Linked DNA regions of Homo sapiens. The protein of the gene in region 2 interacts with the protein of the main gene of each other region in a pairwise test. Each region holds a gene or a part of one and is shown on either strand. Other genes may lie near its edges.

Region 1 (7,025 bases), on a different chromosome or scaffold from region 2:
TAGGCCTTTCTTAGTAGCTGGAGCTTCATCTTTCAGTGAAAAAAATTTAGGGGGTTTTATGTTATAAACTTTGTTATAAATTTTATATTGGTCTTCAGTTTCAGAAACACTGTTGCCTCAAAGGGAAGGAACTAATGTTTAATAAGCTCAGTGAAATAAGTAGAGATTTACTCAGTTTTATAGATTGGGAAACTGTCTCGGAGAAGATAACACAGCCAGTAAGCCACAAAGCCAGGAGTAAGATTCTTACCCATTTTGCAGCACATAAATCTATAAGACTTAAGAAGTTAAGAAATAAAGTTAGTCCTATTCTGGTACAGTTCAACATGAAAGTTCTTCAGTGGAGCAACAAACCCTGACCAAGGTCTTGAAGGGGGTTTTTAGCCTAGAGTCAGGTAACTTCCTCTTTCCAGCTCCATCTCAGGTACCTCTCCCTCATCGTAGCTTGTCTTTATGAATGTCAGCTTTTTGTTTGTTGTAGACCAAACTAATGCATTCATTTAATTCTAACATCTAATCTAAGGTATCTTGGGTTATCTCCATTTACACTTATAAACTGAGGCTTTGAGAAGATTAGGTGACTAGTCCAAGGCTGGTATTCTGGATCCTTTGGGCACTGGAGACACTAACACAGCCTGCCTTCACATGCCCACAAGTACGGAACCTGCCGTATTTCACTGCCTCTTAAGTGTACTCTCAGTCTGTATCCTACTAGCTCAGTCGTATATCCTACACTATTTCTACTATGCCAAACTTCATTACCCTTAACAGACCTTTGCAGTGATTTCCCTGCCACTAGGTGCCCTGTAGGGGTGATATTTGTAGCTCTGGAGATTGCTTTATTCTGACCCTCTAGCAGAGACTACAACCTCATGAGTCTTGGCAGACACTACTTGTCTTTTCACCATTACTACTACTGTGCTAACTGGGAATCTGGCCACCCTTCCTTACCCCAAGGGGTGGGTCTTGATATAAACTCTAAACCAATCATTGTAACTCTAGCTCCCTAGACAGTGATTGATTTAGGCATGGGCATATGATGCAGTTCTTGCTAATTAGATGGGAAGGGAAGCCTGGGGAACTTGTGGAGAAGCCTTCCTTATTTAAAAGAGACTTGCCAGCTTTTATTTTATTATTTTTTGCCAGTTTGTATTTTAACCCAGGTTGCACCAAAATGTGTGAACCACAAACAAAGACAGAGATGGGAAAGCTATAATAATAATAATACCCAACACTTGTATAGAACTTGCTATGTGCTAGGTACTCTTCTAAGTAGAGGCATACCTCAGAGCTAAGGCAAGTTTGGTTCCAGACCACTGCAATAAAGCAAATATAATAAAGCAAGTCACATGAATTTTTCTGTTTTCCAATGCATATAAAAGTTATCTTTATACTATACTGTAGTCTCTTAAGTGTGCAATAATATGTAGAGTAAAAGTACCTCTTTTATTTATTTATTTATTTATTTGAGACAGGCTGGCCCTGTCTGTCACCCAGGCTGGAGTGCAATGGCGTGATCTCGGCTCACTGCAACCTCCGCTTCCTGGGTTCAAACCATTCTCCTGCCTCAGCCTCCTGAGTAGCTGGGATTACAGGTGCCCACCACCACACCCAGCTAATTTTTGTATTTTTAGTAGAGACGGAGTTTTACCATGTTGGACAGGCTGGTCTTGAACTCCTGACCTCATGATCTGCCTGCCTCAGCCTCCCAAAGTGCTGGGATTATAGGCATGCATGAGCCACCATGCCCAGCCAAAAGTACATATCTTAATTAAGAAATCCTTATTGTGAAAAATTGCCATTTGGTGAGCTGTAATCTTTGCTGGTGGAGGGTCTTACCTTGATGTTGATGGCTGCTGAGACTGATCAGGGTGGTGATTGTCTGGGGTGGCAGTAACAACCTATGAAATTTGCCACATCAATTGATTCTTCCTTTCACCACAGATTTCTCTGTAATGTGATACTGTTTGATAACATTTCTCTCTGCCATAGACCTTTCAAAATTAGAGTCAGTACTCTCAAACCCTGCCACTGCTTTATCAACTAAGTTTATGTAATGTTCTAAATCTGCCGGTCTTGGTGGCTCACGCCTATGATGCCAGCACTTTGAGAGGATGAGGTGGGAGGACTGCTTGAGCTCAAGAGTTTCAGACCAGCCTGGGCAACATAGTGAGACCCCATCTCTAAAAAAACATTTAAAAAATTAGCTGGGTGTGGTGGCGCGTGACTGTAGTCCCAGCTACTCAGGAAACTGAAGTGGGAGAATCACTTGAACCTGGGAGGTTGAGGTTGCAGTGAGATGATTGTGCCATTGCACACCAGCCTGGGCGACAGAGCAAGATCTTGTCTCAAAAAAACCCCAAAAATCCTTTGTTGTCATTTCATGTATGTGTGTATGTATGTATGTATATATGTTTTTTTTATTTATTAAGACAGGGTCTCACTCTGTCACACAGGCTGGAATGCAGTGGTGCTATCAACAGCTCACTACAGCCTTGAATTCCCAGGCTCAAGCAATCCTCCTACTTCAGCCTCCCGAGTAGCTGGGACTACAGGCATGCACCACCATGCCCGGCTAATTTTTTAAATTGTTTTTAAAGAGTGTTGCCTAAGCCTGTCTTGAACTGGGCTCAAGTGATCTTCCTGCCTTAGCCTCCCAAAGTGTTGGGATTACAGGTGTGAGCCACCTTGCCCAGCCTATTGTCTTATCAACAGGATTAACGGCATTTTCACAAGGAGTAGATTCCATCTCAAGAAACCATTTGTTTGCCCACCCGTAAGAATAGCTGCTCATCCATTCAAGTTTGATCGTGAGATTGCAGCAATTCAATCATATTTTCAGTTGTCTAGTTATCACATTTTCACTTCTAGTTATCTTGCTGTTTCCACCCCATCTGCAGTAACTTGCTCCATTGAAGTCTTGAACCTCTTAAAGTCATCCGTGAGGGTTGGTATCAACTTCTTCCAAACTCTTATTTATGATATTTTGACTTCTTATGAATCGTGAATGTTTTTATAAGACCTGAAAGTTGAAATCACTCCTTAATTCATACAGAATGGATGGATTCTGTATAGCTACAGAATGGATGTTGTATTAACAGGTGGGAAAACAACATTAGGCCGGCGCAATGGCTCACACCTGTAACCCCAGCAATTTGGGAGGCCGAGGCGGGCAGACCACTTGAGGTCAGGAGTTCGAGACCAGCCTGGCCAATGTGGTGAAACCTTGTCTCTACTAGAAATACAAAAAATTAGCCTGGTGTGGTGGTGCACACCTATAATCCCAGCTACTGTGGAGGCTGAGGCAAGAGAATTGTTTGAACCTGGGAGGTGGAGGTTGCAGTGAGCTGAGATCACGCCACAGCACTCCAGCCTGGGCGACAAGAACGAAACTCTGTCTCAAAAAAAAAAATATATATATATATATATATATTCAGTAAATCAAGCTGTAAACAGATGTGCTGTCATCCAGGCTTTATTCCATTTATAAAGCATAAACACAGTGGATTCAGCATACGTTTTAAGCTTCTGAGATTTTCAGAATAGTAATTGAGCATTGACTTCAACTTAAAGGCCCCAGCTGCATTAGCCCATAACAAGAGAGTCAGCCTGTCATTTGAAGCTTTGAAGCCAGGCATTGACTTCTCTCTAGCTATGAAAGTCCTAGATGACATCTTCCTCCAATGGAAAGCTGTTTCTTCTACATTGAAAATCTGTTGGCTAGTGTAGCCACTTTCATTAATGATCTTAGCTTGATCTTCTGGATAACTTGCTGTAGCTTCTGCATCAGCACATGCTGCTTCACCTTGCACTTTTTTGAGACAGTGTCTCACTCTGTCACCCAGACTGGAGTGCAGTGGCACGATCTCGCCTCACTGCAGCCTCTGTCTCCCGGGTTCAAGTAATTATGGTGCCTCAGTCTCCTAAGTAGCTGGGATTATAGGTGTGTGCCACCACGCCCAGAACATTTATGTATTTTTATAGAGACAGTGTTTCGCCGTGTTGGCCAGGCTGGTCTCGAACTCCTGACCTCAAGTGATCCGCCCACCTCAGCCTCCCAAAGTGCTGGGATTATAGGCATGAGCCACCACACCCGGCTTCACTTTTTTTTTTGAGACGGAGTTTCTCTCTGTTGCCCAGGCTGGAATGCAGTGGCGCGACCTCAGCTCACTACAAGCTCGGCCTCCCGGGTTCACGCCATTCTCCTGCCTCAGCCTCCCGAGTAGCTGGGACCACAGGCGCCCGCTACCACGCCCGGCTAATTTTTTTTTGTATTTTTAGTAGAGATGGGATTTCACCATGTTAGCCAGGATGGTCTCGATCTCCTGACCTCGTGATCCGCCCATCTCAACCTTCCAAAGTGCTGGGATTACAAGGCGTGAGCCACTGTGCCCAACTTTTTTTTTTAAGATAGGGTTTTTGTCTGTCACCCAGGCTGGGGTGCAGTGGCAAGATAGCACACTGCAACCTCTAATTCCTGGGCTCAAGGGATCCCCCCACGTCAGCCTTCTAAGTAGCTGGGGACTACAGGTGTGTGCCACCACACTCAGCCAATTTTAAATTTTTGTGAGACAGTGTGTCACCATGTTGCCCAGGCTGGTCTTCAAGTCCTGTCCTCAAGTGATCCTTATTCCTCAGCCTCCAAAGCCACTGGGATTACAAGCATGAGTCACTGAGTTTGGCCTCCACATTGATGGCTTCTTTCCTTAAACCCTTTCTTTTTGAGACGGAGTCTCACTGTCGCCCAGGCTGGAGTGCAGTGCCATGATCTCAGCTCACTGCAACCTCTTCCTCCCAGATTCAAGCGATTCTCCTGCCTCAGCCTCCCAGGTAGCCAGGATAACAGGTGCCCGCCACCACATCTGGCTAATTTTTGTATTTTTAGTAGAGATGGGGTTTCACCATGTTGGCCAAGTTGGTCTCGAACTCCTGACCTCAGGTGATCCACCTGCCTCAGCCTCCCAAAGTCTTGGGATTACAGGCATAAGCCACTGCGCTCGGCTCCTTAAACCTTATGAACCAGTCTCGTTAGAGCCTGGCTCTGGATTAGGCTTTGGTTTAAGGCAGTATTGTGGCTGATTTGATCTTCTGTCAAAACCACTAAAAGTTTATCCATATTGGCAATAAGGCTGTTTTTTCTTTTCTTTTCTTTTTTTTTTTTTTGAGACAGAGGCTGGAGTGCAGTGGCCCTATCTTGGCTCACTGCAAGCTCCGCCTCCCGGGTTCATGCCATTCTCCTGCCTCAGCCTCCTGAGTAGCGCCCGGCCGGTTGTTTTTTTTAAACATTTGTGTGTTCACTGGACTAGTACTTTTCATTTCCTTCAAGATCTTTTCCTGGCCAGGTGCAGTGGCTCATGCCTGTAATCCTAGCACTTTGGGAGGCCCAGGCAGGCGGATCACCTGAGGTCAGGAGTTCAAGATCAGCCTGACTAACATGGAGAAACCCTGTCTCTACTAAAAATACAAAATTAGCCGGGTGTGGTGGCACATGCCTGCAATTCTAGCTATTTGGGAGGCTGAGGCAGAAGAATCGCTTGAACCCAGGAGGTGGAGGTTTCGGTGAGCTGAGATCGCACCATTACACTCCAGACTTGGAAACTCCTTCACAACAAAAAAAAAGAACTTTTCCTTTGCATTCACAGCTTTGCTAACTGGCGCAAGAGGCTTAGCTTTCACCATATCTTGGCTTTTTGACATGCCTTCCTCACTAAGCTTAATCATTTCTAGCTTTTGACTTAATGTGGAGACATGCAACTGCCCCTTTCACTTGAACAAATAGAGGCCATTGTAGGGTTATTAATTAGCCTCATTTCAATATTGTTGTATCTCAGGGAATAGGGTGGGAGAGAGACTGTGGAATGGCTTGTTGGTGGAGCAGTCAGATCATACACAGTATTTATCAGTTAAGTTCTCCATCTTATATGACCATGGCTCATGGCACCCCAAAACAGTTGCAATACTAGCATCAAATATCACTGATCACAGATCACCATAACAGATAAAACAAAAAACAAAAGTTTGAAATATTACGAGAATTACCAAAATGTGGCACAAAGTGAACACATGCTGCTGGAAAAATGGCACCAGTAGACTTGCTTAACATAGGATTGCCACAAACCTTCAATTTGTTTTTTTTTGTTTTTTTTTTTTGAGACGGAGTTTCACTCTGTCACCCAGGCTGGAGTGCAGTGGCACGATCTTGGCTCACTGCAACCTCCACCCTCCGGGTTCAAATGATTCTCCTTCGTCAGCCTCCTGAGTAGCTGGGACTACAGGCGCCTGCCACCACGCCCGGCTAACTTTTTGTATTTTTAGTAGAGATGGGGTTTTACCATCTTGGCCAGGCTGGTCTTGAACTCCTGACCTTGTGATCCACCCGCCTCGGCCTCCCAAAGTGCTGGGATTACAGGCGTGAGCCACTGCGCCCGGCCCAATTTGTTTTTTTTTTTTTAAAAAAAACACACATTGGCTGGGTATGCTGGCTGACGCCTATAATCCCAGCACTTTGGGAGGCTAAGGCAGGTGAAACTCTTGAGCTCAGCAGTTTGAGACCAGCCTGGGCAACATAGTGAGACCCTGTCTCAAGACAAAAACAATAACAACAATAAAAAAACACACAGTATCGGTGAATCACAGTAAAATGAGATATGCCTGTACTTTATATATTCATTTAATTCTCAGATTCTCATGTTTTAGTTGAGAAAACCAAAGGATGGAGAGGTTTCAGTAACTTGGGCAAATTCATAGCTAATACATGGAAGAGACGCTTACTCAGTATGATTCTAATCAAAATATGGGCTGTTTGTACATAAGCATTCCTGAAGTAGCTAAAGCAATCTCTTCCCCACCCATCTTTTCCTATAGAAATCTCACCTGTTTTTCTTTTCTTTTTTTTAATTTGATATGGAGTTTCGCTCTTGTTGCCCAGGCTGGAGTGCAGTGGCACAATCTCCGCTCACCGCAACCTCTGCCTCCCAGTTCAAACTATTCTCCTGCCTCAGCCTCCTGAGTAACTGGGATTACAG
Region 2 (7,025 bases):
AGTGCTGGGATTATAGTTGTGAGCCACCGCACCTGGCCTTTTTTACTTTAAAAAAAATTTTTTTGTGTGAGACAGAGTCTCACTCTGTTGCCCAGGCTGGTGTGCAGTGGTACGGTCTTGGCTCACTGCAACCTGTGCCTCCTGGATTCAAATGATTCTTGTGCCTCAGCCTCACGAGTAGCTGGGATTACAGGTTCACACCCTCACAACTGGCTAACTTTTTTTTTTTTTCCTTACTTTTTACTAAGTAATACCATGTTGGCCAGGCTGGTCTAAAACTCCTGGCCTCAGGTGAGCCACTCGCCTCAGCCTCCCAAAGTGCTGGGATTACAGGTGTGAGCCACTACGCTGGCCTTAACTTTTTTTTTTTACATTCATGATATATATTCAGTAATAATATCTAACTTCCTTATTATGAACAGTTGGGGGAAAAAAGGAAGGAGAAAGACGAAAGAGGAAGGAGGAGGTAGACAAAGAACAAACCATTAGCAGTCACTCTTCAGTATTTTTGTGATTTAGGTATTATTTGCTTCATGAAATAGATGTGATCTCTGGGAAGGTGATAGCAGAATCCTCCTGATTTTTCTGATTTTTCAGATTTTGTCAAGTGCATGCTCCTGTGTAGTAGTTAAGAGAAAGATGAAGAAATGCAAAGGAAAATACATGCGCTAATATACACAAACAGCAACTTTGGTGGGTTATACTTCCCTCTTGTGGCTTCTTCAGATATTACCATTCTAATTATTATTTTTTTTTTTTTGAGACGGAGTCCAGCTCAGCTGCCCAGGCTGGAATGCAGTGGTGCGATCTTGGCTCACTGCAACCACCGTCTCCCAGGTTCAAGTGATTCTCCCATCTCAGCCTCCTGAGTAGCTGGGATTACAGGCACCCTCCATCATGGCTGACTAATTTTTGTATTTTAGTAGAGACAGGGTTTTACCATATTGGCCAGGCTGGTCTTGAACTCCTCACCTCAGGTGATCTGATTGCCTTGGCCTCCCAAAGTGCTAGGATTACAGGCGTGAGCCACCGCGCCCAGCCTTCCATTCTAATTTTATTTAGACACTTCCTTAAAACAGAGTAAAGGAAAGGATCATGACAACTACTTCTATTCTTCAATGGTAAATTTTTCATAAATATTTGAGTTAGTCAACTAATATTGTTAATAAGATCCTGTGTCACTTGATAATGATAGCTTAATACCGGCTTTTAAAGAAGTCATGTAAATTAGCTTGTGCTGCCTATTATTATGTCTAAGAAAATGGTTTTATGGCTGGGCAAGGTGGTTCACACCTGTAATCCCAGCAACTTGAGTGGCTGAGGCAGATGGATCACCTGAGGTCAGGAGTTTGAGACCAGTCTGGCCAACATGGGGAAATCTCATCTCTACTAAAAATACAAAAATTAGCTGGGCATGGTGGTATGTGCCTGTAATCCCAGTTACTAGGGAGGCTGATGCAGGAGAATTGCTTGAACCCGGGAGGCGGAGGTTGTAGTGAGCTGAGATCATACCATTGCACAACAGCCTGGGCGACAGAGTGATACTCTATCTCAGAAAAGAAAAGAAAAGAAAAGAAAATAGTTTCATTTCACATAAATCTTTACATGAATTTATCACAACTGTTAAGTTTAACTTTCCATGTGCTGTTTTTTCAGAGATGTTCTTAAGATTATCAATGAAACAATTCAGAAAAATAATTTTTGCTTAGTGTTTAGTATAGTATACTGTGTATAAATCCTTGATTGCAGATAGTTTTAGTAGGCCATCCAGGCCTTTCCTTGGCTTCAGAAAAATAAATAGCTATGCTCCTGAAAAGGAATAGAAAGTTCCTAAGGCTTGAGATGCTACCACTTCTGTCATTAGTTCCATTTCAAAAACCTCAACTGAAAACTAAGAGGCAAAAAAGTGTTTATTCACATGACCGCCTGAGGACAAACAGGAGGAAGTTCGTGTGTAAAACTTCAGATGGCTGTGATGTCACTCAGATGTGTACCAATGCAGCCATGGTAAGTAGCTTGGCTTTATGCTTTTTGTTTTTTCCCCAGGAGATTAACGAGACCAGAAGGAAGCATGAAACGCGCTTGGTAGAGGTGGATTCTGGGCGTCAAATTGAGTATGAGTACAAGCTGGCGCAAGCCCTTCATGAGATGAGAGAGCAACATGATGCCCAAGTGAGGCTGTATAAGGAGGAGCTGGAGCAGACTTACCATGCCAAAGTGAGCTCTCTTCAGAAGATTCTTTTGAACACTTAAAATCATTACTTCACAATTCCCATGATGAACATGGCTTTATGTTTATTTTGTTCTAGTTTTTAAAAATGATTCCCCTAGTCTCCATGAAATATATAGAAAATTGATTTTTTCAAAAAAGTGCAGTTTTCTATAAACTAAATGTTATTAAAAATTACTAGAAGAATGTAGGGTTGTTGCAATTTTATTAGAGGTTAGGTTTTGTCTTTTTGTCCCATTGATCATTCGTACTATGCCATAGTAGTTGAACCCAAACCATGTGAAATAACTTTCTTCCAATAACAAGTACTGATCATGCTGTCCTACATAAACATCCATTTAGTAATGAATGAATGTCAGACTGCATTAGATCTCACTTTCATGTCATCATTGTGCATAGATTGTGACTACCACACTTCCGGCTTTTTTGCATAAGGGCCAAATGGAAAGTCTCTGCTATTTCTTCTTCTGTCACTATTATTCACTTAAAAAAATATTGTAGAAACTTCCCACTTATATTAGCTGACCTTACAAGAATTCATAAAAATCACCAACTAGTACAGGCTTTCCCTGGTAAATGATTTTGCCTTGTGTTTTAAATGTTACATGATTTGATTAAAAAGACTTTTTTGTGGTTGACTTAGAATATTAGAGTCACAGAGTTATTGAAAATTTTCATTGCATGGCTTTAAACTGTTCATGTTGCTTTTTATCTATTGTATGAAGTAGCAGTTAGTGAAAGTGAAAGATCTTATTATAAGCAGTAACTTCAGTTGTATAACATTTATCTAATATCACACATTGAGCTATACAGTGAAGGAGCTAAAGTAAGGATCCGTCACAGACTGTGGCCTCACAGGGAGCCAGGGAGGAGACACAGGAGCATGTCCCTGAGACACACATACACAATAGTGTTATGGGATTTGTATTTTACTCAAGGAGTTTTTTTTGCTTCTGAAAGGAAGTGTTTCTATCTGGTTTGAACGAATCTATAAACTAGTATTTTCTGCTTGTTGGTTTACATTCTGTATTGGATTTGGTGGGTTAGGGATATGTGATGTTTCTTTTCTTACAGACACCACCACAGTCAAGTTGCTATTGCCCAGTCTTCTTATTATCAGTGTTATCTTAGACATTAAAGGTTTAATAGATGAAATATTGAAGTAATAAGCTTTGGGTAAAGGCCTAGGTATATTAGCATTCTTAAAGCTCATTATTTAGGAAGTGACTCTAAAAGTCACACAGAATTACCATCATTCACACCATATCAGCAAACTTCATGATGCTTTTCCTGTGTTTCATCTACCAGTTACCAGCAGGACTTAGGTTTGAAATGCCTTGAGGTGAATCATGCTTCCTTTTTTGTTTCAGTTCTAGATAAGACTGACTATGCTTTGCTTCTTCTTTTAGCTTGAGAATGCCAGACTGTCATCAGAGATGAATACTTCTACTGTCAACAGTGCCAGGGAAGAACTGATGGAAAGCCGCATGAGAATTGAGAGCCTTTCATCCCAGCTTTCTAATCTACAGAAAGAGGTAAATAATCATCTTTCTGTAAGAAGTTAGACTTGAAGGCTACCTTCACCACGGGCACCTACCTGCTTTGCTTGGGCTGATGTCACTCCTCCCTCTGTTTGTTACAGAGGATGGTGTCATCCTGTGCTTTCGTCTTCACAGTACTTTTCTAGATTCGTTCATTTTGCATTGCATAAACATCCTGTGAGCAGATACTATTGTTCCTAATTAGTAGATTACACAGAGCTAAGGGACTTGCCCTTGAGGAAGGAGCCTGCTAGTTTATTCACTGTACTTACCCTAGGACCCGGATCTTCCGACCTGTCTAACAGCTTCATCTCTACAGAGTTATTCTCAACACCTTCCTTTTTTATATCATTTGAAAACCAAAATGAAGAAAAACATGCAAAAATTCTTTGTGGGTGGTGAATGCTTTGTGTTTCTAGACAAATTCTTTAGTGCTTAAAGTATATAACAATTAGGATCCAGGAAAGTAGCTTTAATTTGCATATTCCGATAAGAATTTAGTGACTCATTCATTCGTTGGTACGCCTAAGTGACAAATGGCATTATTGCCGGCTGTGTTGACTGGCTGCCTATCAGGGTGTGATGGTGTGCTTCAGGTGCTGCTTAAGCAGGCATGGACACTACTTCAGATCAGTTTTAGCCTAGGGTGATGTCAGTGTGGACACAAAGTACATATACTCCATATACTGCATTCAGAATGATTCAGCAATTAACTCGTCACCTTAATTATTTTGGAAATAACTTCCGCTTCTATTTTCCTCAAGGGAGGAAATCTTGTTTTGAATTTTCCACATGAGAATAAACTTTATTTTACTTTTTTTTTTTTTTTTTTTTTTTTCTTTTTGAGATGGAGTCTCACTCTGTCGCCCAGGCTGGAGTGCAGTGGTACGATCTCGGCTCACTGTGAGCTCCGCCTCCCGGGTTCACGCCATTCTCCTGCCTCAGCCTCCCAAGTAGCTGGGACTACAAGTGCGTGCCACCACGCCCGGCTAATTTTTGTATTTTTAGTAGAGACGGGGTTTCACCGTGTTAGCCAGGATGGTCTCGATCTCCTGACCTCATGATCCACCCGCCTCGGCTTCCCAGAGTGCTGGGATTACAGGCGTGAGCCACCGTGCCCAGCCTATTTTACTCTTGATTGGGCTTTTCTTCCTTCCTTTTTCTTTTTACCATTTTTAGTAAAATATTTTTCTAATTATAAAACTGATGACCTCTGTTGCAGGAACTTAGAAATAAAGCAGAAAATGAGTCCCATAAAATGGGGTGATATAAAATAATTTAGTTAACACAGGGGCTTTTACACTGTCTATCATGTGCTTTGTTACTTACGGCACAAATTTTTAAATTATTTTAAACCTATTTTGTGCTGATAGTGTTTTGAAGATTTTCATTTAATAGCAGAGCTGGAAGCACCTCTGAGTTCATTCCATGTAACCACAGATCTAGGTGAGTTTAATGATTTGCCCGTTGCCCAGAGGCTGCAGACTGATAAATGGGTTTCTCTACTCCTTCCCAGTTTTTCCTTTTATAACTCATTTTCTTCAAAGAAGATTTACTTTTAGAAATTTAACAGATAATCTTTTTTTCCATTGCACCATCTGTCTTAGTCCTTTTGGGCTGCTATAACAAACTACTATTGACTTGGTAGCTTATAAACAACAGATATGTCAGAAATTATTTCTCACAGTTTTGGAGGCTGGGAAGTCCAAGATCAAGGCACTGGCAGATTGGATATCTGCCTGGTGAGGGCTGTTCCCCGATTTATAGATGGTGCCTTCTTGCTGTGTCCTCACATGGTTAAAGGGTGAATGAGCACCCTTGGCCCTATATTATAAGGGCATGAATCCCATTCACTAGGGCTTTCCTCTCATGATCTAATTACCACTCAAAGGCCCTACCTCTTAATATCATCACCTTGAGGGTTAGGATTTAAACATGAAATTTGTGGGAACACAAACACACAGACTGTATCACTGTCTTTGTTTTTCTTGTTGTTTTTTTTTCTTCTGAGACAGAATTTCGTTCTTGTTGCCCAGGCTGTAGTGCAATGGCGCAATCTCGGCTCACTGCAACCTCCGCCTCCCAGGTTTAAGCAATTCCCCTGCCTTAGCTTCCCTAGTAGCTGGGATTACCGGCATGCACCACCACACCCTGCTAATTTTGTATTTTTGGTAGAGACAGGGTTTCTCCATGTTGGTCAGGCCGGTCTTGAACTCCTGACCTTAGGTGATCCGCCCGCCTCAGCCTCCCAAAGTGTTGGGATTATAGGCGTGAGCCACTGCACCTGGCCTATATCAACTGTCTTAACAGGTACTTTTCCAAAAATGGGCCTCTCTGTTCTTGTACTGAGTTGGCATTTACTACTCTTTTCCATTTACTAATAGTAAGTTGTCTACTAGTTACTGTCTATCCCTCAATTTTATTTTTTCCTACTGTATTATTATTTTTTTGGCTGCTGCCTAATCCATTTGATTTACTTAGTACAGATCTTCTCTTGAGGTTGATCTTCACTGTGCTTTGGATGAGGAGACTGTTATTAATAAGTAGTAGTGGGCTCTGAAACTTAGTAGCTATGTGTTCTAACCTAGGTTCAAGGCTGTTTCCCTGTTAATTGAATTCCCATTTTTGCAAGTTGGTTTTTTTTTTTTTTTGAGACAGAATTTTGCTTTTGTTGCCCAAGCTGGAGTGCAATGGCACTATCTCAGCTCACTGCAACTTCTGCTTCCCAGGTTCAAGTGATTCTCCTGCCTCAGCCTCCTGAGTAGCTGGGATTACAGGCACGCGCTACCACGCCCAGCTAATTCTTTGTATTTTTAGTAGAAATGGGGTGCACCATGTTAGCCAGGTTGGTTTCAAACTCCTGACTTCAGGTACTCTGCCTACCTTGGCCTCCCAAAATGGAAGGGATTACAGGCGTGAGCTGCTGCCTTAAATGCTGGGATTACAGGTGTAAGCCACTGTGCCTGGCTGCAAGTTTTTTTTGTTAACCTTATCTTAGTGGTTTTTAAGTAATGTTAGGCAGTGCACTGGGGGTTTCCAGGAGCTAACTCCTTAGCAGATAGGAGACGAGCAATCCCTTTAGCCAAAATAGTTTTTAATTTCTCTGGGGTGAATCTTTCCTCTGTTCATTATTGGTAACAGACTTTATGGTAAACAGTATATTTTGAGGAATATTTTTATTAGTTGATAAATTTTAGCCTTAGAAAAATCATCAAAAATAAAAATGTTATCTTTTTGAATATTTTCCTATTGTT
Region 3 (7,018 bases), about 52 Mb from region 2:
GAAGAGACTATCGTCTTAAATACAATAATCACACAATTCCTTTTTTCACTTAGAATCATAAAATCTTAGGGGAAGGAACATACAAGTTTTGTTTAACTTCCTACCCAAACAACAATCCTTTATACAGAATCCTTGACAGATATTGTGGGAACCACTACATGAATACTCAACTCTCTTATGTTGTACTTACCTTTAAAAAGTAAATCTTACTGAATTTTTAGGCAGATGACTGAACATAGTATGCTTAAGGCTTAAAACGGAGTATTTAGGTAGGAGCTAATAGAGAAAAATATTCGATTTTTCTTTTCAATTTCTCAACCATTGGTAAATAATGCTCAAAATCTCAAGCAACTTCAAAGACAAAAGCACACCAAGATCACTTCCAAACTGGAGTCAATACAATCTTACCAATTCAGTGAACTTCTCTGACTTGTATAATAACAGAATCAATGTAAAAGTTTAAGAGTTGTGTTTGACTCAGCACTGTTATTTGCTAGAAAAAAAAAAATCTCATTCCCCATAGGCCTAGGATAGGTCCAGACAGGTCACCTGCAATCTCTAGCAGGCAATCTTTGCTTACTTAAATTCCCTAAACCAAGACTCATCTCTAAATGTCCAAGGTTCTTCTCGCCTCCATAATTCTCCCTATAGAATAAACATATCTATAATGGGAAGCACGATATTTTTGCCAGGGATGGTACACAATATGTAATCACTTGTTTGAAGACAAAATTAGTGGGAGAGTCTTCAACAAAACAGAAAATAAATAGTTTAATTTAATAAGGAGGATGGCATGGAAACTTTACCTCAAAAGCACTTAATTATTTTGTTTTCTCCAAATCAAAATCCTTTGTTGGATATATATTCCATCTTGGTGTTTCACTGTTGTTGCCCAGGCTGGAGTGCAAGGGCACGATCTCGGCTCACCGCAACCTCTGCCTCCTGGGTTCAAGTGATTCTTGTGCCTCAGCCTCCCGAGTAGCTGGGATTACAGGCATGTGCCACCACACCCGGCTAATTTTGTATTTTTAGTAGAGACGGGGTTTCACCATGTTGGCCAGGCTGGTCTTGAACTCCTGACCTCGTGATCCACCCGCTCTGGCCTCCCAAAGTGTTGGGAAAACAGGTGTGAGCCACCGCACCCGGCCTATATCCCATCTTTATTAAATAAATACCACTTGTAATGACATGAATACTATCTCAAAGGTCAGACTAATTTGAAGCCTTTTAGAACCTAAAATCCACAGGTAAAACACCTTAATTTATGGTCACTCATGTGGAAGGTCAATGTTGCTACTCACATAAGCTATTTCTAAGTTCCCCAAACAGATCCCCATCATTAACTTAGAGAAAAGTCCACTATAATAGCTACAAGATTTCTGTGAAAGACGATCATGTTTTATCTTTGTTTGCGCTTCAAGTGTTAGGATAAACGGACTTTTCCCAGGTGCCTCTCACCATCTCATTCCTTGCCTTTCCTCCAAAACAAGCAAAACTAAAACACTAAAAATTTTAGTCTGGTCCATACTAGTCAATAAAAATCTTTCCTCTTGTAAACACTTTATAGCACGATAAGGGACGTAGTTTGCAAAGATCATCTGTACATCCTGTGTAAAAAATAAAAACGCATGGCACACCAAACCCAGATCCACTTCGGTGAATTCCCTCCAGGGCCCAAATGTGTGCATTATGCAACAGCCAGCACTCCCGATTGTAATCCCTGTCTGTGATGCAATGACAAAATATAAATGGCTTGGGTATAATCTGCTCAGTTCGTAAGTAGTAATTCGCAAGAAGCCAACGAATTAAAAGAATTCCCAAATTCTCAGGAACCTTGAAAATGACAAATTGTGTCACAGTTCTGTGAGAATCACAATGAAAACTTTCCCTTCTGGAAATTTTTTAGAAATATGTCCCTCCGGTCCCAATCCCCCAAAAACCCGTACACACGTTTTAATTTACGTTAGGAACGGCTCTCCCAGCGGGGGAAGGTGACCTGCATCAGGTGGTTATCTTCGAATCCACCCGATACGATACCCACGCCGCTTCCCAGACGCTGAAAAGCCAGTGAGATGCTTCATCCTTTCTCCCCAAGGACAGTCATGGGAGTCAGTGTAATCCAGACCCCCGAGCCATAAACCACCCAGGGTTCAAGGCTTCACCTCCTGAGGCACAGGCCTCTTGAAAAATGGCATAATGGAGAGCTGAGAACACAATTAGGACAAAACTGCAACGACCAGCATTCCAGAGGAGGGAGAATCATACAATATCTGTTCCAAAAGTAGTTACAGGTAAAGGAAGGCGGTCAGAGCATCTCTGGAGGCCACCTGGTCGGGTGAACCGAGTCTAAACGCTGAAGTTCCACACCTCCCCGAGTCCGCGTCTCCCCAAGCCAAAGCAATCAGCTCGCACGCCAAGCATCCAGGTGGGGAGAGGGCGAGGGGAGGGGGCGGCAAGCCGCAGCTGCGAACCGGCCCGCGGCGGAGGCGAGCGAAGACGGGCATTCCCTCACACAAAATGGTGGCGCCGAGGCGGAGGCCGGCGCACCTGGGGGCGCCACACGCCCTACGGGATCCCCGCAGACCGCCGCCAGCTGGACGCGAGCCCCGGGTCCAGGCGGCCCGCACTGGTCTGCGCCAGGCCCAGCCCGCAGGGGCCGCCCACAGCCGGTGGCCCGCGTCGCCGCTCGGTGTCCGCGGGTCTGGTGCTGGCGGGGGCGCGGGGCCCGGCGCGGCCGTCTCGGCCTCACCCAGCGGTCCGCGCCGGGGAGAGGGAGCGCACTCACCTCAGACGCGCCCCGGGAGCCGCTGGAAGAGCCCGGGAAAGGAGGCGGAGCCGCGCGAATGAATGGAGCCGGCGGCTGCTCGCTGGCGACCTCCGGCCGGTCCCAGGCCGCACAGCTCGCGGCTGCCAGGGCGAGTGCGGCTGCCTCCCGCTCGCCCCGGACGCCCGGCTCCTCGTCGCGGGTCGGCCGCGGCCCACCGTGCCCTCCGACGACGTGACGCACTAGCGCCGCAGCGCCTCCAGCCTTCGCTTCCGCTCCGCGCCCGCGCCCACCGCGAATCCCCCCGCCCGCCAGCGCGGAGCGGCCCCTCCTCGGAGCCTGGGACGCCGCCCTGCCTCCCTCCAGCCCCGGCTTTCAGGCGCCGGCCCGGCAGGTGCGGGCTTGGCCAGCCCGGGGGCGTCACGCGGCCCCCGCCTCGCCACCCGCGCCCCCTCTCTCCGCCCCGGCCGCCGTCACCCGGCAGCGCGACGCCCAGCTCAGGGCAATGGCCTGGTATTAAAGAGTGACCTTGGCTTAGATATAAAAATAGATGCGGTTAAGCCGCGGGGGCTGCAACGCTGATTTTGCGTATTCCTTTAATGCCGACCTTCGCAGGATTCTGTTCGCATAGCCCGGTGGAGTTCTCCAGCCCCGCGTAGGCCCTCCTGAAATTTACCCAGAGTGGGCGCGGCCATCCCGGCCTCGGGACAGGGGTGCAGAGGGCACGGGCGAGGACCGCCGGCCTCCGCCCCACCACTTTCATCCTAAACCTACTGCCACTTAGGTGCATGCAAGTTAGAATCGTGGGCTGCTTTCACAGTCTACAGAAGTCCTAGAGCCCGGACTTTCATCTGGAGATGTCAGGGAAATACCACATTCCTGCGCTGACCTTTTCTCTTTCACCGTTTAACCGGTACAGAATAACCCTGACCCAGAAAGACAACAGGGTTCCATCCGGCTTTCCTCCCGTGCCTCTCCCAGCTCTATTCTACCGTCTTATGGCCTCTGGCGCCTTTGCTAATTACACACTCCTACTGAAAATTAGCCCTCCAGCATTTAAAACATGATAAATTGTCTTTAAGGTAATGCGTATTGTAGTCTAAATATATTTAATAACTGTATTGAGAAACAATATTGTATCTAAGTATTAATGTCAAGACTTTCTTTTACTCATCATCCAAGAACCGTAGTATTATGTTCAGCTCATCCAGAAAAGTTGAAAATTGCTTCTTTCATTCCTGGGAAATATTTAGCAATCACAATACCAACTTTCACGAATTTACTAATGATTAGCAAAATTAGCAAGATCAAAAAATACTTCAAAGAATGCTTGTTGATATAGATATATTTGACCCTGATTTTTAAAAAAAGCTTTTCTGCCATATAAGAATCTATTGTTTCATTTGTATAATATTTAATTAGCCAAAATCTTTACTATTACACATCATTTACCATTTTAATGAAACTTAATGAATTAGATTTAATAGAGCAGGAATTTTGGGTAGTTGGGTTCTACCCATAGCCAGTGATGAATGAAATTATATGACTTGTATTTACATTTCTAGAGCTATGTGTAAGTAGGAGTCCCCAGGGTAATCCCAAACAATTGCCATTTGGGGAAGCTTTGGCTACCAGACTATGCCCTACAGATGTTGAAGCCTCAGGCCTTAGTGTAAAGCTAACCAATACAACTTGTTGATAATATTTGAAATGCCTGGGTGTGATTGACTCTTAGCTATTGTTTTAGAAGTATGCGGGTATTTGTGCCTGGGTCAGGGAGGCCTGGCTCCCAGATGTCTGGCTATTCTGGTAGGAGACAGAACTACATTCACCCAGACCTATAAAAGAAAAGGTCCAATTTTTTTTTTTTTTTTTTTTTTTTTTTTTGAGACAGGGTTTCACTCCCACAGCCTAGGCAGGCTGGAATGCAATGGCGCGATCTCGACTCACTGCAACCTCTGCCTCCCAAGCTCAAGCGATTCTCCGGCGTCAGCCTCCGGAAGAGCTGGGACAGAGGTGCACACCAACGCACCTCGCTAATTTTTGTAGAGACGGAGTTTCGCCATGCTGCCCAGGCTGGTCCTGAACTTCTGAGCTCAAGCGATCCGCCCGCCTCGGCCTCCCAAAGTGCTGGGATTACAGGCGTGAGCCACTGCGCCAGGCCTGATTCTCTTTTCCCTACTTGCAAATGACACTATTTTTGAGAGTTTTTGGTTTTTTCTTTTTAAATCACCATTGACTTCCCTCTTTGGCTGAGATAAATTTTGCTTATCTTAGTGGGCAAAGAACAACAACTAAAAACATGAGCCTTTGTCAGATTAGTATATGCTGAAAATTGTTACCACAATATTTTGAAATATGCTTTGAGGCTTTTTTCTGAACCGTTTTTAGAGTAAAAGGATTATTGCTTTGGTTTTTGTTTTTGCAATGCTTGCTTTAATTATTACTTTGTTATTAGCAAAGGAAACATGTTAAGAGTTCGTTCTGATTGTATTTTTCCTCTATGTTTAAAGAGGAGTGGAACCATCTTAAGTAAAAGAAGCTTGCCACAACCCTGGATTTTGGAGGTTACTAATACACATGACCCAGAAAAGAGCTCTTTAGTTGCACTGGGGAAGAGGAATTCTTAATAGCTAAAATCATAACTGATGTTTTTGACAGCTAACAAATTGCCAGGCACTCTACAGACTTCTTTATGGAAATTAATTCACTTAATCCTCTTACCATCCTTGCAGGTATACACTGTTACCCCCAGTTTACCTAAGAGGAGTCTTGAGGCACACAGAGAAACTAAGCAATTTGCCCATGGTCACACAGATAGTAATCCTAGCATGTTGGCTCAAGAGCACACTCCCTTAACCAGAATTCCATACTGCCTTAAATGTGCACAAAATCCTATACCATATGGATAGATTTTGCTTTTGAAGCCCTAAAACATACTAAATGTCCTATACTTTCAAGTTTAAATAATTTCTTAGATCTAGTATTTTCCCAGACAGGAAGGAAGAATTAAAACTAGTTACAAGTTTACAAGTTAGAAAGAAAACTTGTAAAAACTTCCTCTGGTATATACTAAGCAAAATTTTATAATCTGTTAGTTTTTGAAAAACACATTTTTCATTTTTACATCATTTAAGTGTAATTGCTCTCCAAGTCCCGTCCCCCAGTTCCAGGGCATAATTACAAGTTTTCATTCTGTTTATTTAGCGCGTGGAAAAGACACATTTCCTTAGAAAGATTTATCATCATCTTTGACACTCCAATAAGACATAAATATGTTGGGAACAGGCCCCCCCAAAATCTCGCCATCAACTGGCCCCAAAACTGGCCATAAACAAAATCTTTGCACCACTGTGACATGTTCGTGATGGCCGTGACGCCCACGCTGGAAGGTTGTGGGTTTACCAGAATGAGGGCAAGGAACACCTGGCCCACCCAGGGCGGAAAACCGCTTAAAGGCGTTCTTAAACCACAAACGATAGCATGAGCGACCTGTGCCTGGACATGCCCCTGCTACAGATAACTAGCCAGAGCCCATCCCTTTATTTCAGCCCATCCCTTGTTTCCTGTAAGGAATACTTTTAGTTAATCTATAATCTATAGAAACAATGCTTATCACTGGCTTGCTGTCAATAAATATGTGGGTAAATCTCTGTTTGAGGCTCTCAGCTCTGAAGGCTGTAAGACCCCTGATTTACCACTCCACACCTCTGTATTTCTGTGTGTGTCTTTAATTCCTCTAGCGCCCCTGGGCCAGGGTCTCCCCAGCTGAGCTGGTCTCGGCATAAATGGGTAGATTTAGAATCCATCATATGTTTTAAATACATAAAATCACAGGGATTTTTTTTTTTTTGAGACTGAGTCTCACTGTGACGCCCAGGCTAGAGTGCAGTGGTGTGATCTCTGCTCACTGCAATCTCCGCCTCTTAGGTTCAAGCAATTCTCCTGCCTCAGCCTCCTGAGTAGCTGGGATTGCAGGCACGCACCACTATGCCCGGTTAATTTTTTGTATTTTTAGTAGAGATGGTGTTTCACCATGTTGGTCAGGCTGGTCTCGAACTCCTGACCTTGTGATCCACCCGCCTTGGCCTCCCAAAGTGCTGGGATTACAAGCGTGAGCCACAGGAGAACATTTTAATAACTGAGGTAGCCCAGGGATTTCTAGATTGAAACTATTAGCCAGTCAGCTAACTAGTTAGCTAATAATATCAGCCATGGCAATGTAGAAAGACAATCTTACCTGCAGGCACTAAA
Region 4 (7,852 bases), on a different chromosome or scaffold from region 2:
TGGCCGGGCGGGGTAGCTCACACCTGTAAACCTAGCACTTTAGAAGGCCAAGGAGAGTCGATCGCTTGAGGTCAGGAGTTCAAGACCGGCCTGGCCAATATAGTGAAACCCTGTCTCTACTGAAAATACAAAAATCAGCTGGGCATGCTGGTAGAAGCCTGTAATCCCAGCTACTCTGGAGGCTGAGGCAGGAGAATTGCTTGAACTCGGGAGGCAGAGGTTGCAGTGAGCCAAGATCGCTCCAGCCTGGACTCCAGCCTGGGAGACAGAGCAAGACTCTGTCAAAAAAAAAAAAAAAAAAAAAAAAAAAAAAAAAAGGCCGGGCACGGTGGCTCACGCCTGTAATCCCAGCACTTTGGGAGGCCGAGGCAGGTGGATCACAAGGTCAGGAGATCGAGACCATTTTGGCTAACACAGTGAAACCCCATCTCTATTAAAAATACAAAAAATTAGCCGGGCGTGGTGGTGGGCACCTGTAGTCCCAGCTACTCAGGAGGCTGAGGCAGGAGACCCCGGGAGGGAGACTCCTGGCATGAACCCCGGGAGGCGGAACTTGCAGTGAGCCAAGATCATGCCACTGCACTCCAGCCTGGGCCACAGAGTGAGACTCCATCTCAAAAAAAAATAATAAATAAAAGAGGGAAACCGCTCAACATAACTTTACTAATAACAATGTTTGGTATTATTCTCTATTTTATATCTATAAAAAGCTAGACTCTTGAAAGGAAAAAATTAGAGATCAGAGTTCATTACAGTGCAAACTGACCACAGTATTAGTTGTTGAATTACGCTCAATATATATAAAATATTTAAGTAAAATAAAATGCTCATGGAAATAAAACTCTTAAAGTATTTATCACCTATATATGTAGCATATTCTAGGCCACTGGCTCTAAACGTTTTCAATCACACATCCTACATTCGTAAAATACATTTGTGCATTCATCCTCAATATATTTATTTCTATACATGCATTACTATTCTAATATACTACTCTAGCATAAAATTCACAAAAAACAGAAATTTTTAAGAATGAAAGTTTTAAAAGGTAAACAAATAGAAGTTCTAATATTTTCTTACCACATCTGACTGGATCACCTTGTGCCCCACCACGCACACATACAAAGGCGCTACTTATGAGACCATTAATCCAAGCAACCACATTGTAACTGTTCAGCATAAATTTTAGCCAAATAAAATACAGCACCAACAACTCAGATATCACTTGTTCCTTTTTCTTCAATAGTACTGACTTCCGGCTTCAGATTTAACACTGCATCCATCCTCACTGCAGTTGCTTTAAAGGGGACAATAAACCAAGGGAAATTATCTCTAAAGGGGCCCCATCCAATGGGATTGTTTCGTTCACTGAAAAATAAATTTAAAGGCTGCACTTCAAAGGCTGAGGTCTCATAAAAATTAAATATTTTTATTTAGAAATGTTATTCCAGCACTTTAAAGTTACAGAATAGAGGAATTTTTTTCATTCATAAGCTTTCAACGGCTCTTAGAAAAACCATGTTTAAGTTGGGCAAATAACTGGAATCTGAACTTATGATTTTCTTTAATATCAATCGACATTATTTCTTATGCCAGTAAAGCCTTCATTTCCATGGGGCTGGGCGCCTCATTAGTGAAAGTAAAAGACTGCACAAAGCGGGGGAAGTGCCAACTAGAGAGCCCTCACAACCAAACAAGCAGTACTTAGGTCGGAGGGAGAGAGTTGCTCCTGACCTACCAAGAAAACCACTTTTGTACAGAATATGAGTCATCATTATTGGGTGTTGTAATTGAGAGATAAATCATTAGTGTTTTTGTCTTTTTTAAAAAACATGTCTAAAAAGCTCAAAAGTAAATGCCAGTGTCATATTCTTTTGTTTGTTTTTTGAGACAGAGTCTCGCTCTGTCGCCCGGGCTGGAGTGCAATGGCGCTCTCGGCTCACTGCAAGCTCCGCCGCCCGGGTTCACACCGTTCTCCTGCTTCAGCCTCCCGAGTCGCTGGGACTACAGGCGCCCACCACCATGCCAGGCTAATTTTTCCTTTTTTTGTATTTTTGGTATTTTTTTTGTATTTATTATTTTGTATTTTATTTTGTATTTTTTGTATTTTTGGTAGAGACGAGGTTTCACCGTGTTAGCCAGGATGGTCTCGATCTCCTGACCTCGTGATCCGCCCGCCTCCGCCTCCCAAAGTGCTGGGATTACAGGCGTGAGCCACCGCGCCCGCCGCCAATGTCATATTCTTTAGACATATCACTGTCATTTCACAGCTTTCAAATACTTCCATCTCCTATGTATTATCGATGAAAACCTAAGTTTTCATCTTAGAACGGAGCTGCCCGACTATTAGAAGCGTGGAACCCAGGCTTGCCTTGTCGTCGGGAATGAGCACTAGAGGCACCTGCACGCAGGTGGAGGAGGGAGGCTGGCGGATGGAGAGGGCGAGGCTAGGAGGCCCTCGGGATGGAACCTGTCTCTTCTTTGGACACTGTGGAATTTCCATAAGCTGCTGGACACAGCTGATGGGTACCAGGTATGAGTGGCAACGTTTGGCAATTCCATTAACTGAAAAGAACTACCGAGAAACGGTGAGGCGGGGCGGCGAAGATGAGACCAGCTGCCCATCACTCCAGAGGACCTGCTGAAAGAATCTGAACTCACCACGCCTTCGCGTCCGCAAGGGAAAGGTCCGGCTGCCACGCCCCCGCGACCGCTGTCGCCCTGGGGAAAACACGAGAAACACCCGGCACCGCCAGGTTCCAGAGACCTTCGCAAAGTAAGGGGTAAATAAAAACCGTGGCCCCAGGAACTAGTAGTTCCCAAAGGGACCAAAACCGAGGCTCCCCCAACCTAGCCCGTGTTCACTCCAACTTACCCATTAATGTGGCACTCTCCGATGCCCTGATTTCCCAGTCCCCAGCGGCGACGTGTGTGGCGGGTAACAGAAGGGCCGCCACTCCGCCCCTGGCGTGAAGCGTAGCGACCCAGTTCGCAATCCAAGATGGCGGCCACCTGCGCCCCTTCTCCGAGACCCCGAGGCTCGGCTCCCAGAAGCCCTTGCACTCGACGCGGCGGCGGCGGCGGCGGCGGCGGCGGCGGCGGAGGAGGAGTGGTGGCCGCACATCCTAGCAGTGGGGCGTAGAGAAAGTGCGCGCCGCCGTCCCACCCACCGAAGGAGGAGCCTGTGCCTGCGACAAGCCCTGGATTTTAGTTGCGCTTGCGGTGGCCATGCTGTAGGTACTCTGCGGCCCGTAGACCTCCGTGTGTGCAAAGGGACGACCCCTCATTCATTCATTCTTCACGCGTGCGTGCATGCATACATTCTTAAGGATATAAACTGTGTCAAGTACCATTTTAGATACATTATTGGGGCTACAACAGTGCAAAAAAGTTGGTAAAAATCGCAGCCTTGTTAAGTGTACGGAGAAGCTCACGTTTTCTTCAGCTTCATTAACTTTTATATGCTCTGCTCGTTTTATTTCAAGCTTTTTGTCATTTATAATTTTATATTCTATAACATCTGCGGTTTTTTGTTTTTGTTTTTCTGTTTTTGGGGGGTTTTTTTTGAGACGGAGTCTGGCGCTGTCACCAGGCTGGAGTGCAGTGATGCGATCTCGGCTCACTGCAACCTCCGCCTCCCAGGTTCAAGCGATTCTCCTGCCTCAGCCTCCCAAGTAGCTGGGACTACAGGCATGCGCCACCACGCCCAGCTAATTTTTGTATTTTTAGTAGAGACCAGGTTTCACCGTGTTGGCCAGGATGGTCTTGATCTCTTGACCTCCTGATCCGCCCGCCTCAGCCTCCCAAAGTGTTGGGATTACAGGCATGAGCCACCACACCCAGCCACATGAGTGTATTTTTGACAGCAATGTAGTCACCAATAAACGAGTAACTTCAGTTAAAGTACTGTAGATTATAATACACAGCCCTGTAATCTACCCTGGAGTTCAACAAACGGTATTGAAAACAGACTGTGTTCCAGATGCAATAGGAAGAGAATAAATAAGATAAACAATACATAAATCCTGCCCAGAAGACGTTTGCAATTTTTTAAGAGGAAAAACATGAAGACAAATTGTTTTAAGATGTTTGCTATTTTCAATAGTTGAAAAATAAACAGGAGAGAAGGGATTATTTAACTGTGGGTATGTAGGGCTGAGAAAGGCACGCTTGACAAAGGAAACCTGGGCAGTGTTACCAGAAAGCGTTGCCAATCATGAGTCCATATAGTGAAGTGAAAGCAAGTTTATTAAAGAAGTAAAGAAACAAAAGAATGGCTACTCCATAGGCAGAGCAGTGGCTTGGGCTGCTGGACTGAGTATATAGTTTTTTTGTGTGTTGTTTGTTTGTTTTGACACGGAGTCTTGCTCTGTCGCCCAGGCTGGAGTGCAGTGGCGCCATCTCGGCTCACTGCAAGCTCCGCCTCCCGGGTTCACGCCATTCTCCTGCCTCAGCCTCCCGAGTAGCTGGAAATTTATTGTATTTTTAGTAGAGACAGGGTTTCACCGTGTTAGCCAGGATGGTCTCAATCTACTGACCTGGTGATCCTCCTGGCTCGGCCTCCCAAAGTGCTGGGATTACAGGCGTGAGCCACCGCGCCCAGCCAGTTATTTCTTAATTATATGTTAAACAAGGGGTGGATTATTCATGAGTTTTCAAGGAAGGGGGCAGGCAATTTTTGGAACTTAGGGTTCTACCCTCTTTTAGACTGTATGACTTCTGGATGTTGCCATGGCATTTGTAAACTGTCATGGTGCTGGTGGGAGTGTCTTTTAGCATGCTAATGCATTATAATTCACGTATAATGAGAAGTGAGGATGACCAGAGGTCACTTTTGTCTTCATCTTGGTTTTGGTGGGTTTGGCCTGTCTTCTTTACGACATCCTGTTTATCAGCAGGGTCTTTGTGACCTGTATCTTGCGTGGACCTCCAATCTTCTGTGACTAAGAATGCCTAACCTCCTGGGAATGCAGCTCAGTAGGTCTCAGCCTCGTTTTACCCAGCACCTGTTCAAGTTGGAGTCACTCTGGTTCAAACGCCTCTGACAACAGGACTATTGGAGTACTGATAGGAGTTTATTTGCCTTAATCACCTGGCCACCCTATCCCTTTCTTATTTCCTCCCTACTCCTCCGTCCTGGGAGACTGAATTCAAATAGACAATGGCCAGAGAATATATACAAATAGAACACTAACCTACAACCTTCAACAACCAGTCCAGGAAGGCAACCTACTATGTCCAGTAACCAGTCCAAGAAATCAGATTACTATATTTAGCAACCAGTCCAGGAAGCCAAGCAATAACCCTTGTAGCAATCTACCCCAAATGGCCAGGACGTGATTAATAACTTACAGCTTCTGTAAGTTTTGTCAGGGCTTCCAACTCAAGGCCAGCTAGAGAGAGCCAAATATCTACCCACCCCTAAATAATTACATAGGATGCCCTGCTTTTAGTTAGCCCACCTGCAGCTTCTCCATGCCAACAGCCTTGAATTGGCATACCTGAAGCTTTCCCTTTTTTCCACTCTAAAGCTTTCTCACTCCTCTGCCTGCCGTTGAGTCTCTGACAAATGCAAGTGATGATGGCTGACTCCCTTGCTATTGTAAGCTCCAAATAAATTTGGCTTTGCTTGTTCTCATTTAGATGGTCTGCACTTGTTTCTATACTCCTGAAGAAGATTCCTGCTATCTGGACATGCCTTCCCTCTGGATAGATATGGCAGAAGAGATGATAATGGTGTCTTTTAGACCTCTGCTCAGCAGGGTCTAGGTCCCGGCTTTTCATATCCAGGAAAGAACTGGAGGAATAGGATTGGTATCAAGATGCTGACTTCATTAGTTGTATGCAATGCCAACCACAGCAACTTCCTACCAAGACCTGACCTTCTATGGCATCTTTCCCAATCTGCCTGTCAAAATAAAATCCACTTCTCAGTGGTCCTTTTATCCCAAAAGCTGCTGCCTCAACAGTAGAGAGCGTATTGCCCTATTAGCTTACCTCCTCCACAAGCCATGATGGAAAAGAAAGGGTTCTAACCCATTGGCTCACCAATTTCTTTTTACTTAAGCAGATGCTATGGTCTGAATATGTTTGTCCCTCTCAAATTCATGTGTTGAAACCTAACCCTCAAAGTGATGGTACTAAGAAGTGGGGCCTTTGAGAGGTGATTACATCATGGGGATGGAGTTCTAATGATGGGATTAGTGCTCTTGTAAAACAAGGTCAAAGGAAATGCCTTGCCTATCCACTATGTGAGTGTAGAGGTACTGTCTATGAGGAAGCCGGCTATCATCAGACACTAAATTTGTCTGAGCCTTGATCTTGGACTTCTGGCCTCCAAAACTGTGAGGAATACAGATGATCCTCAACTTACAATGGGGTTATTTCCCAACAAACCCATCAGTAAGTTGAAAAATATTGTAAGTCAAAAATGCATTTAATACACCTAACCTATTGAGCCTTATAGCTTATCCTAGACTACTGTAAACATAGTCATAACACTTAGGCTACAATTGGGCAAAGTCATGTAACACAAAGCCTATGTCAGAATAAAGTTATAAAGAATTTTTGAATCAAAATTCAAAATTTGAAGTATGGTTTATTATTAATGTGTATCACTTTTGCACCATTGTAAAGTTGGAATGTCATAGGTCAAACCATCATAAGTCGGGGACTGTCTGTAAATGTTTACTGTTTATAAGTCAACCCATTTTTGGTATTTTTGTTATGGCAGCCCAAATGGAATAAGGAAGCAGGTAAGTTATCAAAGTAAGAACATACTTCTTCTGAGATCCTGTTGATCACTGCAAAATTAAAATTTGATATACTTAACTTTACAATGACAACATGAGATAGGGGACACTGAGGCACAGATGAATGTGTAAGTAAACTTTCCACTGTCACAGGGCTAGTAAGAAGTAGCTGTGATTCGTACCTAAGTAGTTTATCTTAATGAGAACTAGATTAAGACTCAAAGTTATCAGTAGCAGGATCATATAATTTGTGTTAACCAGGACATTTTTGATAGTGGAATGGGGTACTAATAGTAACTTTTTTGGGATGACTGTCCTGGGCAAACTGGGACACATGACCATCCTAATTGTTGAAGTTGTAAATTATTGTTAAATTTCCCTCACTTCTGTAGCACAAGTCATTCCACACAACAGCATGTATCCTTGCTGCTATCGATAGGTCTGATCCAGGATGTGGGGACAGAGTGACTTTATTTGAAATGCTAATCTGCCATTAGCATTTCTGACTAACCCCAAGTCCAGGAATGCTCCCAAAATGTCTAGTTGATGTATTACTCTTTAAGTAGGAACACCTATTCACCGTAAGTTTCCTCCAAAACAATCCTTGATGCTGCTACAGAAATCACAGGCTGTGACACCTGTAGCCACCTAAACATTCCTTCCAGAGTACGTATATTTTCCCTAAGATATAAGCCCTGGGTTTAGAGAGTTAGCCCTGGGTTTAGTGGTATGGAGATCTACCTGTCTTGCGGCCACCCAAGACCACGCTTCTGTCTGTAAGTTCCCCTAATAAATCACCCAAGACCAATTAACTTGATTTTTCTGCCTTTTTGGGTTCTTGGCTCCTTCAACATTTGGCAGTTGCTTTGCATATACAGCCCTTTCACGGAACACAGGGAAACAGACTGAGATTCAAGATTTGCCACCTGATATTTATTGCAGAGTGCTCTTTGGGAATAATAACAGGAGTGAGGAAGCAGGATTCTACAGAGAGATAAATTATGTTGCATTATTAGCAACAGAGACTTCAGACAATCTTATAGGAAGTGCAGAAGCTGGGATGGCCCTTCAGAATTGTCACTGTTGAGGCTAGAGGCTCA

Evidence for each region.
Region 1: the proteins of LMNB1 (region 2) and KPNA6 interact in binary tests that used the Homo sapiens proteins (3 or more experiments, as listed by UniProt).
Region 3: the proteins of LMNB1 (region 2) and FAM169A interact in binary tests that used the Homo sapiens proteins (3 or more experiments, as listed by UniProt).
Region 4: the proteins of LMNB1 (region 2) and KPNA5 interact in binary tests that used the Homo sapiens proteins (3 or more experiments, as listed by UniProt).

Annotation. Positions count from the first base shown.
Region 1 is NC_000001.11:32,111,041-32,118,065, forward strand, and holds part of KPNA6 (importin subunit alpha-7), read left to right. Parts: intron 1-7,025. UniProt on the Homo sapiens protein: Functions in nuclear protein import as an adapter protein for nuclear receptor KPNB1. Binds specifically and directly to substrates containing either a simple or bipartite NLS motif.
Region 2 is NC_000005.10:126,808,134-126,815,158, forward strand, and holds part of LMNB1 (lamin-B1), read left to right. Parts: intron 1-2,046; coding exon 2,047-2,217; intron 2,218-3,639; coding exon 3,640-3,765; intron 3,766-7,025. UniProt on the Homo sapiens protein: Lamins are intermediate filament proteins that assemble into a filamentous meshwork, and which constitute the major components of the nuclear lamina, a fibrous layer on the nucleoplasmic side of the inner nuclear membrane.
Region 3 is NC_000005.10:74,863,380-74,870,397, forward strand, and holds the start of FAM169A (soluble lamin-associated protein of 75 kDa), read right to left. Parts: upstream 3,009-7,018; 5' UTR 2,786-3,008; exon of another isoform or gene 1,951-2,785; intron 1-1,950.
Region 4 is NC_000006.12:116,676,362-116,684,213, reverse strand, and holds the start of KPNA5 (importin subunit alpha-6), read right to left. Parts: upstream 3,004-7,852; 5' UTR 2,880-3,003; coding exon 2,876-2,879; intron 2,768-2,875; exon of another isoform or gene 2,722-2,767; coding exon of another isoform or gene 2,662-2,721; intron 1-2,661. UniProt on the Homo sapiens protein: Functions in nuclear protein import as an adapter protein for nuclear receptor KPNB1. Binds specifically and directly to substrates containing either a simple or bipartite NLS motif.